2 separate regions of the Homo sapiens genome follow, and region 2 is linked to region 1. Evidence: fine-mapped expression QTL. A gene starts in region 1. The other region holds a variant in brackets. All regions are shown on one strand. Distances are from middle to middle.

Region 1 (5,389 bases):
CTATGCAAATCAAGTTACATGAAATTATAAATGAAAATTCTATGAGTGTTCACATGCAAAGCTAGATTACATGATCTAAATTTTAAACTGCTACTAAATTTCTGTTCTCTTAAAGGCACTTAATTTTTCATGAATAACTGGATCTTCAAGATTTCTGGATAGATTATGTTTAAGACTCTCTTTACGTACAGAATGTAATCAATGATAAATTCTAATTATTCCCAGTATTAAAGTAGTTCTTAAAAGTCATCAGAGCTTCACTAATTATTTTTACACATACTCCATCATTTGCTTTGAAAATGAGATATATAGTGTATCTATAAGCAGGGAGGGGCACCAGGCAACAGATCATAAATATAGTTATTACAAAGTTGCTTGCACATATGAATCTGAAGTGTGAAATGCCTATACTTTATAACTCTTACAAAAATAAAAAATTGTTTCACTCATGGTACCCTGGCAACCCAGCAATTTTATATTCACTGATGGAATGAAAATGCAATGTCTGAAAATTAAAATTCAGTAAAAGTTCAATAGTTCACCCACATTTATGATAACCTATGGGGGAAGGGGATGTGCATTTCATATCTAGTCATGTGAAGTGTGCCTTGAATGGCAACTATCGTAAACATTAATTTTTTACTCCCATAACTATTCAAAGCATTGTACGAAGGGCTCAATCAGATCGTGTGAAGTGTACATTTTTCACCCCATAAGCCTGAAATCAGCGAAATGTTATCTTCTCCTTCGCACAAGGCTTCAGGTAGAGACTGGATATCTACCCTCACTCAACCACCCTCAATGGTAGAACTAAAAAGCAACAAATGGATTTTACAAGTTAATGTCTTAAGCTATAGAAGAAAACGAAATGAAACAAAAGGAAAAGGGGAAAAAAAAACCCATTCCTACATTACTGACCGGGGGCTTCTCTTCCAATCGCATCCCAAGTCCTTTGCTGCTCAAAAAACTTAACACCTCCAACCTGGTTAGACGCTTCAAATTCCTCCAGATTTCTAAACTGCGAAAGCGAAACAAACATCTACCTAACAGGCTAAAAAGATGACGAAGTACAAAGTAAGAAAAACTTTTGCAACACAGACACTGGCCACAGTGCATTCCTACTTTCCCAGAAGGGAAGAGGAGGGGAGGCAGCTGAAATAAGAATAAGGATGAGGTAAGTATCGGTGGAAGATGACAGTTTAGGGTGAGAAGCGGCTGCTCTTTCTCACATTCAGGGGGACAGGAAGGCAAAAGGTAGGTGTTAAATTAAAAAAAAAAAAAAGTCTACCCACACCACTCTTCGTTCTTCCTCCAGCACAGCTGGAGGGGGAAGGCTCTTCCCCAGAACGCCGGAGCAGAGAGAAGGCATCGCCACCCTAGGCTAGTGGCGCCGTCCAGCCTGTCACTGGGGCTGGGACTAGAAAAGTTGAAGCAGGAGTAAAGATCTGGGGAAGACGGACACGTCCTTCCAAGGCTGAGGACCCCGGTGACCCGAGCTGAGGGCAGCCAGAGCCCGGGGTGACCAAGCCCTGCCCTACGTGTCCGGCTGTCTCTGAGGAACCGGGTCGCCTGACGCCTGCCCTGGCCCCTCTCCGCCCGGCCCCGCGCGCCTCCTTGCTTACCTGCTGCACCCCGAGGAACTGGTAGAAGTTGAGCTGCACCTCCTCCACTAAGTCAAACAACTCCAGGTCTCCGCTCTCCCAGCCGCGCGCCGGCGCCACGGCGGCCAGCAGCAGCAGCAGCAGCCACAGCAGCGGCGTCCGCGGCGGCGGCGGCGGGAACGGCACCAGCCCGAGCTGGCGGCGTCCAGGAAGCTGCGCCGGCTGGGAGCAAGGAGCCGTCATCGCGCTGGGCTCGGAAAGGTCACCCGCCGCGCAGCTCCGTTGGCCGAGAGCTGGGACGTGGCGGGCGGCGCTGGCTGTGGGGAACAGCGCCTGTCAGTGAAAAGCGCGGGCAGGCGCACCGGAGCGGCCCGCCAGGTGGCTGGCCCCAGACAGAGCGCGGAGGCGGCGGGAGCCGGCTGCCGGACGGGCGGGTGGGTAGGCGGGCGGGGCCGCAGCCAGCGCTACGTTCCGAAGACCCTCGCCCCCAGGCCTACACACAGCTGTAGAGGCAGCGCCCGGCGCCTGGGCTGCACAGTGGGTGAGGCTTCCCTTCGCCTCAGCCTATCCCAGGCCTCGCTTCCGGTGACATCATGTCTCCTAGCAACCGCGGGAAGGGGGCGTGGCCGGAAGCCTGGACGCCTGGCGCCCCAGATCTGGGCCTGGGTGAAATGCCTCTCAATCACTGGCGCGCACGGAGCAGCTGTACCTGCGCCCACATGGGCTGAGAGACAGGGACGGTTATAGCCATCTCGCGTCCATCTGGAACGCCCCACGTGGACTTCCCCTGAAATAGCTACTGTCTTCCTCTCCCCTAGCTATCGAACACTAAAAGCATATTTGAAGCCTGATTAATTGATTATGGCTTCCATGCATTTAATTAGTCCATCAGCAAAGAAGACAGGACAAGTTGAACCAGGTTCTAAAAGGGGCAAATCTAGTAAGTAGAGAGAGGTAGAGCAGAAAAGGAATTGAAACCAAAACAAAAAGTATACTTCTAATTATGAATTAAGATTTACAGGCATAATACCATAAAATGACCTGGTAGAATTAACAGTTAATAATGGTGACTCAATCATAGTTGGAGGAGAAATGTAGTTTATCCACCTTAGCCCACCTCCAGTTGGGGTTCCTTTGAAAACAGACCTCAATTGAGATGTTTCTGTTTTAAAAGACAGGCTAAAAACCTCCTCTCCCATAACAATGTCTCACCTTCTAGTCTTGCATTGCTTCTGTTCAAGCTCTTTTCAAGTTATTTTCTCCACCACAATTCTCTTGTGTGGACTTTATTATTGTGTGCTTAGCACAATGCATAGCACATGAGAGCACTCAATTAGTTGAACTGAATCCTGTGACTACCTCCCTACCACCATTCCCCCTACCACAGATTTTTAGTTTATTTATTTATTTATTTAGAGACGGAGTTTTGCTCTTGTTGCACAGGCTGGAGTGCAATGACACCATCTCGGCTCACTGCAACCTCTGCCTCCCACGTTCAAGCAATTCTCCTGGCTCAGCCTCCCGAGTAGCTAGGATTACAGACTCCTGCCACCATGCCTGGCTAATTTTTTGTATTTTTAGTAGAGACGGGGTTTCACCGTGTAGGCCAGATTGGTCTCAAACTCCTGACCTCACATGATGTGATCTACCCACCTCAGCCTCCCAAACTGCTGGGATTACAGGCATGAGCCACCACCCCCAGCCTAGTTTATTTTTGGTTATATCAGTTTTCTTAAAGTGAACGTCATCTTTACCAAGTCCCTAAATTAGGTTACTGTTTATTCAATGAACAAAACATCGAAATAAGATGAAATTAATGATCTTAAGCACTACTTTTACATATTATAGTAACATTCATCTTTTCTCCTAATTTGATCATTAGATTAAGTGCAATAAAACCTTTGAAACTGGTGCCATATTGCCACAAATCTGGGATTCTTACCCCGATCTTGTAGCAGACAGCCTAGTATTTCCCTTTTGAGTTTTACCTTTATGTTGTCTGAGAACCTCGGGGACTTACTCCATCTAAAGATAGCCCATCCTCTTTCTAAGGCCATGCTGAAACAGAATTGGATTCTATTAATAATACTTCTCATGGACATAAGGTATTACTCAAAAATTCATGCTGCCCAGCTCCAATGACACTTGTCCACCCTGAGATGATCTTCTTGCTTGTCCAGGTTCCTGCAAAGACCACAGTGATATTCATATTTAGACTTCTAGCTTGGCCTCTTTACCTATTCAGTCATTGTCCCAAAAATTACAGTGCAATTGAATAAATCTTTTGCTGAGGTCTGAACTAAGGGAGTGACAGTATCCACTGTTTTCTTCCCTGGTGACATGTACTAATTCTGGGCATAGACTCATCCAGCTTGGCCTGGGCAGAGGGAGTTTACACAGAAAAAGAGAAACCAGTGAGATGTTTAACCATCATGTGAGCTGTGAAATGGATTGGAAATATAGAGGAGCCCCAAACATATAGCCAGTTTTCCCACAGGACATTCGCTGAGTTCTGGGGTGGTGCAGGAGGCTGAGCAGCTGGGCGTGATAGGCAGAGTAAAATTACCCCATATTCTACTGCATAGAAAGCTAATTCTGCTTAGAAGGATCCTGCCTCAAATACACAAGCATTCTCCCCCTTCAAGACATTTACACTATTTTTGAAGTTGTATGAGAAGGAGGCTGAAGATCTACGTTTAAAACCTCTCAAAGGCAGAACTGAATCTCAGAGCAGAGGAAACAGCAGCTGTCCAGGCTCTTGATCAAAAGCCCAGAGGAATCACACATGAAGAAGAGAGAGAAACCACAAGAGAACTATCTTACTGAAACCGCACCCCAATCCCAACCCAGCTCATCCTTGATTAGACAGAGATAATCAGAACATCATCCTATTTGTCTATGTTTATCCCTAGAAGAAAATAACATCATCTATATTGTCTATAGATCTTTAATATAAAAGTCTAACATTTGTAAAAAAAAATTATGAGGTGTGAGAAGAGCAGGAAAATTTGACCAACAATCAAGAAAAAAAAAATAATAGAAGATCCACAGATAAGCCAACTATTGAAGTTTAGATAAGAACTTTAAAATAACTATTATGAAATAAAGCCATAGGTTATAAAATAGAAGAAAACATGAACAAGATGGATTAAAATATGCAGAATTTTAAGAGTATTAAAATCCATAAAAAAGAATCAATGGAAAATATTTAACTGAAAAATGTAATTTCTGAAAGGAATATTGCAATGGATCAGTTTAATAGCAACCTGGACACAGCAGAACAGAGGGTTAGTGAATTTGGAGACTGAGCAAGAAAAAATACCTAAACTCAAGCACAGAGAGAAAAACAAATGGAAAAAATAGAACACAGCTTAATAGGCATGTGTACAATGAATAAACCCAGGATAGGTATAACTGGAGCCTTAGAAAAAGAGGAGACAGAGAATGAAGCAGAAGCAATATTTGAAGATATAATAGCCAAGAATTTTACAAAAGTAATGAAAGACATAAAACCACAGATGAAAAAAATATCTCAAAATGAATCCTAGACCTCAATGTATGAGTTAATGCTACCAAACTCTTGTAAGAAAAAAAGGGAGTAAATCTTAGTGACCTTGGGTTAGCCAGTGGTTTCTTATATATGACACAGAAACATAAATGACAGAAGAAAAAAAATAGATAAATTGGACTGCACAGAAATTAAACGTATGCTGCAAACAATATTATCAACAAAGTAAAAAGACAAGAGAATAGGAGACAATATTTGTAAACCACATACTTGATAGGGT
Region 2 (5,389 bases), 940 kb after region 1:
TGGAATAAAATATATACAGGTATTCAAGGATTGTGTATATTGAGTAAGCATTTATATCATTTGATAAACATCTGTCATGTGCCAGATGACGTGCTAAGTGCTTTACATACATGACCTCTACTCCTTTCCTTGTTTCTTTGAGATAGTACCTTTGAGATAGGTACTATTATCCTCATCAAACAGAAAAAGAAATTGACATTCTAGTAGCATAATTCATTTGATTCCACATGGCTAAATTGAGAAACTAGACCTGTCAGATTCCAAAACATTTGGCTCTTCCCACCATACCCCAGGCATTCCAATGCTGACAATTGTTTCTCTAGCGGTTGATGTATTTTTAATGAAAAACTTTGCAGTGCACTTATTGGGCAGTGACCACATCCTTTTTGCAAGATTACATTTTCTTTAAGTTTTAAGACCCATTCATTTTTAATGTGATTTTTAAAGCTCATATGTGAAACTGATAGTTTTCTTTCTGCCTTTCAGTTTGACCCATTAATGATTGAAAGCAAAAAAGCAGCAACTGTGGTGTTAATGCTTAATTCTCCAGAAGAGGAAATTTTGGCTAAAGCATGTGAAGCCATTTATAAATTTGCTTTAAAAGGTTTGGATTTTTTTCAGTTTATCTTTCTGTTTCATTAATTTCTTAAAATATTTACTACCTCTTGGGCACTTTTCTTCCTAGTCTTTAACTTACTTGCTGTCGGATGAATTATTTCAGACAACCAGGATATTATTTAATGCATTACCTAAGAGCAATCTCTCTTCCTGAGTTCCTAGCTTAATCTTAAGGAGTAATTTAGTCACTGGGTAGAACAGTCATTCTGAAAGTTTCATTGTAGTTTTAGAAATTGTAAATGTCACAGAAGCTAAAAGAACTCCCAATAGTCAAGGCTGGAACAATTAGAACAACAAAGTAAAGCAGTATTGGCTTATCATCCAAGTGGAAAATAAGTATCCATGAGTCCATACTGATATAAATAAAATGGGTGAATAAATGGAAGAGAAGAGACAAATCTCCTATGCAGAAGAATTCCTAATAGTTTATGTAGACACTCTTGACTTCAAGGAGGTGAAATGTAACTTCCGACTCTTTGAGTGGGAGAGGTACAGAGTGACTTATTTCCAAAGAGTACAATGTAGAAATGGGGAAAATAAGCTTACAATGGATAAACCTGACAAACACTACCGCAGCTAGGTGATCAAAATCAACACCACACATCTGGGCATGGTGGCTAATGCCTGTAATCTCAGCACTTCGGGAGGCCAAGGTGGGTGGATCACTTGAGCCCAGGAGTTTGAGACCAGCCTTGGCAATGTGGCAAAGCCCCATCTCTATATATAAAAATATATATATACAAAAACTAGCCATGTGTAGTGGTGCATGCTTTTAGTCCCAGCTACTCGGGAGGCTGAGGTGGGAGGATCACTTGAGCCCAGGAGTTCAAGACCAGCCTTGGCAACATGGCAAAACCCCACCCCTACAAAAAATAGAAACATTAGCCAGGTATGATGGCACATGTCTGTAGTCCCAGCTATTTGGGAGGCTGAGGTGGGAGGACTGCTTGACCCTGGGAGGCAGAGGTTGCAGTGAGCTGAGACTGTGCCACTGCACTCCAGCCTGGGCAGCAGAGAGAGACCCTGTCTCAAAAAACAAACCAACCAACCAAAAAAAAAAAACAGAAAACAAACCACCAACTGTGATAAGTCCTATCAATATTAGGTGCTCTTGATATGATGTGATGAAAATGACACTTTATTTCTGTGTTATTTTTCTTAAAAATCTATAACCCCAGTTTAATAATGATTTTTAAAATCAGACAAATCCCGGTTCAGGTACAAAATACCTAGCCAATGCTCCTCAAAACTGTCATGGCTATCTACAACAAGCAAGTTTGAGAAATTCACATAATGGAGGCATAATGAGTAATGACATAGGATCCTGGGACAGAAAGAAGATATTAGGTTAAAACTAAGGAAATCCGAATAACTAAGTACTTTTGTTAATAACAGTGTCTTCATATTAGTTCATTAACTGTAAAAAATGTACCATACTAATATCAAATGTTAATAA[TA/T]GGGGAAACTGGGTCTGAGGTATGTGCAAAGTCTTTGTACTGTCTTTGTAACTTTTCTGTAAAACTAACATTGTTGTAAAACATAAAACATTTAAAAATTATAAATATTACACATCAGGTTCTACTGAAAGGTTTATTCATAGAGGATTTAAAAACATACAAGATGCCTATATTTTAGTCTTCATATTATTACAAATGATTAGACTTTTATTATGTTGCATGACATTTTAATTGAGAATATTAATTTAATTGAGAGTTTAGTGTAACTAAACTGGTTTTTTTTAATAAACCATTTCAAACTAAGATAGGGACAATTTTGTTTTAAATAAATGATACTTGACATATTGTGTTGGAAACTGAATGAGAGAACAACAAATCATTCAATTAGCAAAGGGTATAATACTCACCTTGCTTTGTCACTCAGGTCATCATTGGGAATCCAGATGTAAACCAGAGTGTTTCTGGAAGTTACTATATCTTTTTGAGTGGATGGTGTAGAATCCTGGGTCAAATTTCAGGGAGATATTGGATTGTGCATCTATGGCAGCATGAATCCCATTCAGTCTTACGGAGTCATTATACATCATCTGGCTGTCACGTGTATCTAATTATGTGTTATCTCTTTTTGCATGACATGAAGAAATAGGCATGTATTTCATATGAAATCAATACAGAAATAATTTTAAGTCTGATGTTTTATACTAGTAGTATTTTCTAAAATTAAAAAAAAAATGATAGGACTTTGGTTTCTGGCCATGACGGACCACTCTACTGCCTGTAACAATGAATGAAACAGACCCAATATGTGAAAGTAGAGTAGACTTACTCTATTGGTGGAAACAATGAAGAAAATAAACGAGATATATGAAATAACAGTTGACAAGACCATCAACATCAGACAATAAAGGGCAGTGACCACTGAGAGACGGGAAACAAGGGAAGTAAACCCTATGATTGCCTCAGATTTTTGACTTTAGAGAGCTTTTTGGCCATAGCACTGGAAAAGGTAACCTGGTGGATTCTCTGAGTTAAGAAGACAAACCTGAAAGTCCAGAGAAATAAAGGTATTCAGAGTTTTCAGGACAGAGCAAAGGAGAGGAATGAGTTTCACAGAAGGAGAACTCAGGAGCTCTGTAAAGGGTCTCATTCTTGTATTTAGAAGAGTAGTGAACAGCATGTACATGTGAGGGTAATAGTTGGAACAAGAGGCACCCAAAGGATTGGGGTAACAGTGCCTGGTGCTCACATACGGCTAGGAGTAATGCCTGTTTCCATCAGCCAGGCAGAAACTTCAGAATTCATGGAGCATTGTGTAGAATACACAGAGGAGTCTTGCCTCAGTATGAGAAATAATTAGTCCTAGATTGTGCACTGTTCTAGTACCACCTAGTAAATATTAAAAGCAAGACTTGAAAGGATCAAGTTGTTTCCAAGTAACTTAATTTGTCCCTGAAAAAAATCTTAAGAATACAGAAATATCCATTGCCCAAGAAGGTAAAATTCACAATATCTTGCATCCAATAAAAAAATTACCAGGCATGAAAAAAAGCAGAAAAAACGCATAATAAGATATATATCAATGAGTAAATCAAATTGACCTAGATGTTAGAATTAGCAGGAAAAGACATTAAAAGATTAATTACAACTGTATTCTATATGTTTAGAAAGTGAAAACATGGAAGCTATAAGACAGATCCAAATACAACTTCTAGAGATGAAAACTTCAATGTCTGAAATGAAAAACACATAGGCTTTGATTAATGCAGTTTGGACATTGCAGAAGAAAAGATTAATGAACTTAAATACATAGTAACACAACCTGTCCAAAATGAAGGACAGTGAAAAGAGATTTTAAAAAGATGAACAGAGATTCAATGAGGTATGAGAAAAATTCAAGTGTCCAATATATGTGTAATTGGAGTCTCTGAAAAAGGGAGACAGGGACAGAAAAAGCGTTTGAAGAAATAATGGCCAAACTTTCCCTAAATCTGATGAAAACTCTAAGTCCATGGATCCAAAAAAGTTTGTCAAAACCCAAGTGCAAAGAATATGAAATAAACCATGCCATAGTACATTATAATCAAATTGCTTAAAATCAGTGATAAAGAGAAAATCTTAAAAGAAGCCAGAATCAGTAAAAACATGTTACATTCAAATAAAGATAAGGATGACAGTAGATAATAACAAATTATAAATAAGGATGATTTATCATCAGAAGTTATGCAAGTGAGAAGTCTGTAGAGCAACAATCTTAAAAGAATAAAAGAAAAATAAAAACTTTCAACACAGAATTACATATCCAGAAAAAAGGTCTTTCAAAAACGTAGGTGAAATAATGTTTTTTTTCCAAATATAAAAAGCTAAAATAATTTATTTCCAGCAGATCTACACTATTACTTATAATAAAAAGAGGCCTTTTAGGCAGAAGGAAACTAACACTAGATGGAAACATGGATCTACAAAAAAGAATACAGAGTGCTAGAAATGGCAACATATATGTTTTGTTATTTGAATCACTTCAAAAGCAAATTTATTAAACAAAAATAATCATATATTGTGCAACTTGAAACATATGTATAAATAAAATATATGGCAACAACAGCCCCAACATAGAAAGGGAAAAAATGGAAGTATACTATTGTTAGGATCTCATATGTGAAGTGGCATAATACCACTTCAAAGTAGACTGTGTTAAGTTAAAGATGTATACTGCAACCCTAATGCAACCACTAAAATAACAAAATAAAGGATAATATTAAATAAGCCAATGAAAGAAATAAAATGGAATCAGTAATATTCACAGAATACATAGAAAAGAAGGCTGAATATGAAGAAAAAAGAAAACATGGAATAATGGGGCATGTAAAAAACGAGATGGTGGATTTAAATCTAACCATATCAAAAATCAAATTAAATATAAATGTCCTAAATACCTTGATTATCAGGGAGAAATTGGTATATTGGATAAAAAGCAAGAGTAAACCACATGCCACCTTCAAGAAGTGCATTTAGAATAGAAAGACAAAAATAACGCAAAAGGATGACAACAGATATGTCATGCTAGCATGAATCAAAAGAAAGCCCAAGCATTAGTAACAGAAATATTAATATTATAAAAGTAAACAGAGAAAAGAGTAGTACCAGAGATAAAGAAGGTCATTTTATAATGATAAAGGGATCAGTTAATCAAAAGACTGTGAAAAATCTTTTTTTTTTTTTTTTTGAGACAGAGTCTTGCTCTGTCACCCAGGCTGGAGTGCAGTGGCGCAATCTCGGCTCACTGCAAGCTCCGCCTCCCGGCTTCACGCCATTCT

Evidence for each region.
Region 2: its variant is fine-mapped to the expression of DNAJC1 in whole blood (INTERVAL, PIP above 0.99).

What each region holds. Positions count from the first base shown.
Region 1 is chr10:22,001,591-22,006,979 of GRCh38, forward strand. It overlaps DNAJC1 (DnaJ heat shock protein family (Hsp40) member C1), which reads right to left and starts at 2,140. Exons shown (of 12, transcript NM_022365.4): 1 at 1,623-2,140. The coding sequence starts at 1,844. RefSeq lists a silencer at 1,774-2,143 and enhancers at 1,804-2,304, 2,184-2,233, 2,264-2,393.
Region 2 is chr10:22,945,658-22,951,046 of GRCh38, forward strand. It overlaps ARMC3 (armadillo repeat containing 3), which reads left to right. Exons shown (of 19, transcript NM_173081.5): 3 at 487-604. Among named protein-coding and RNA genes, the nearest start is that of ARMC3, 20 kb to the left of the region's middle. The variant TA/T (reference allele first, on the strand shown) is at 2,075.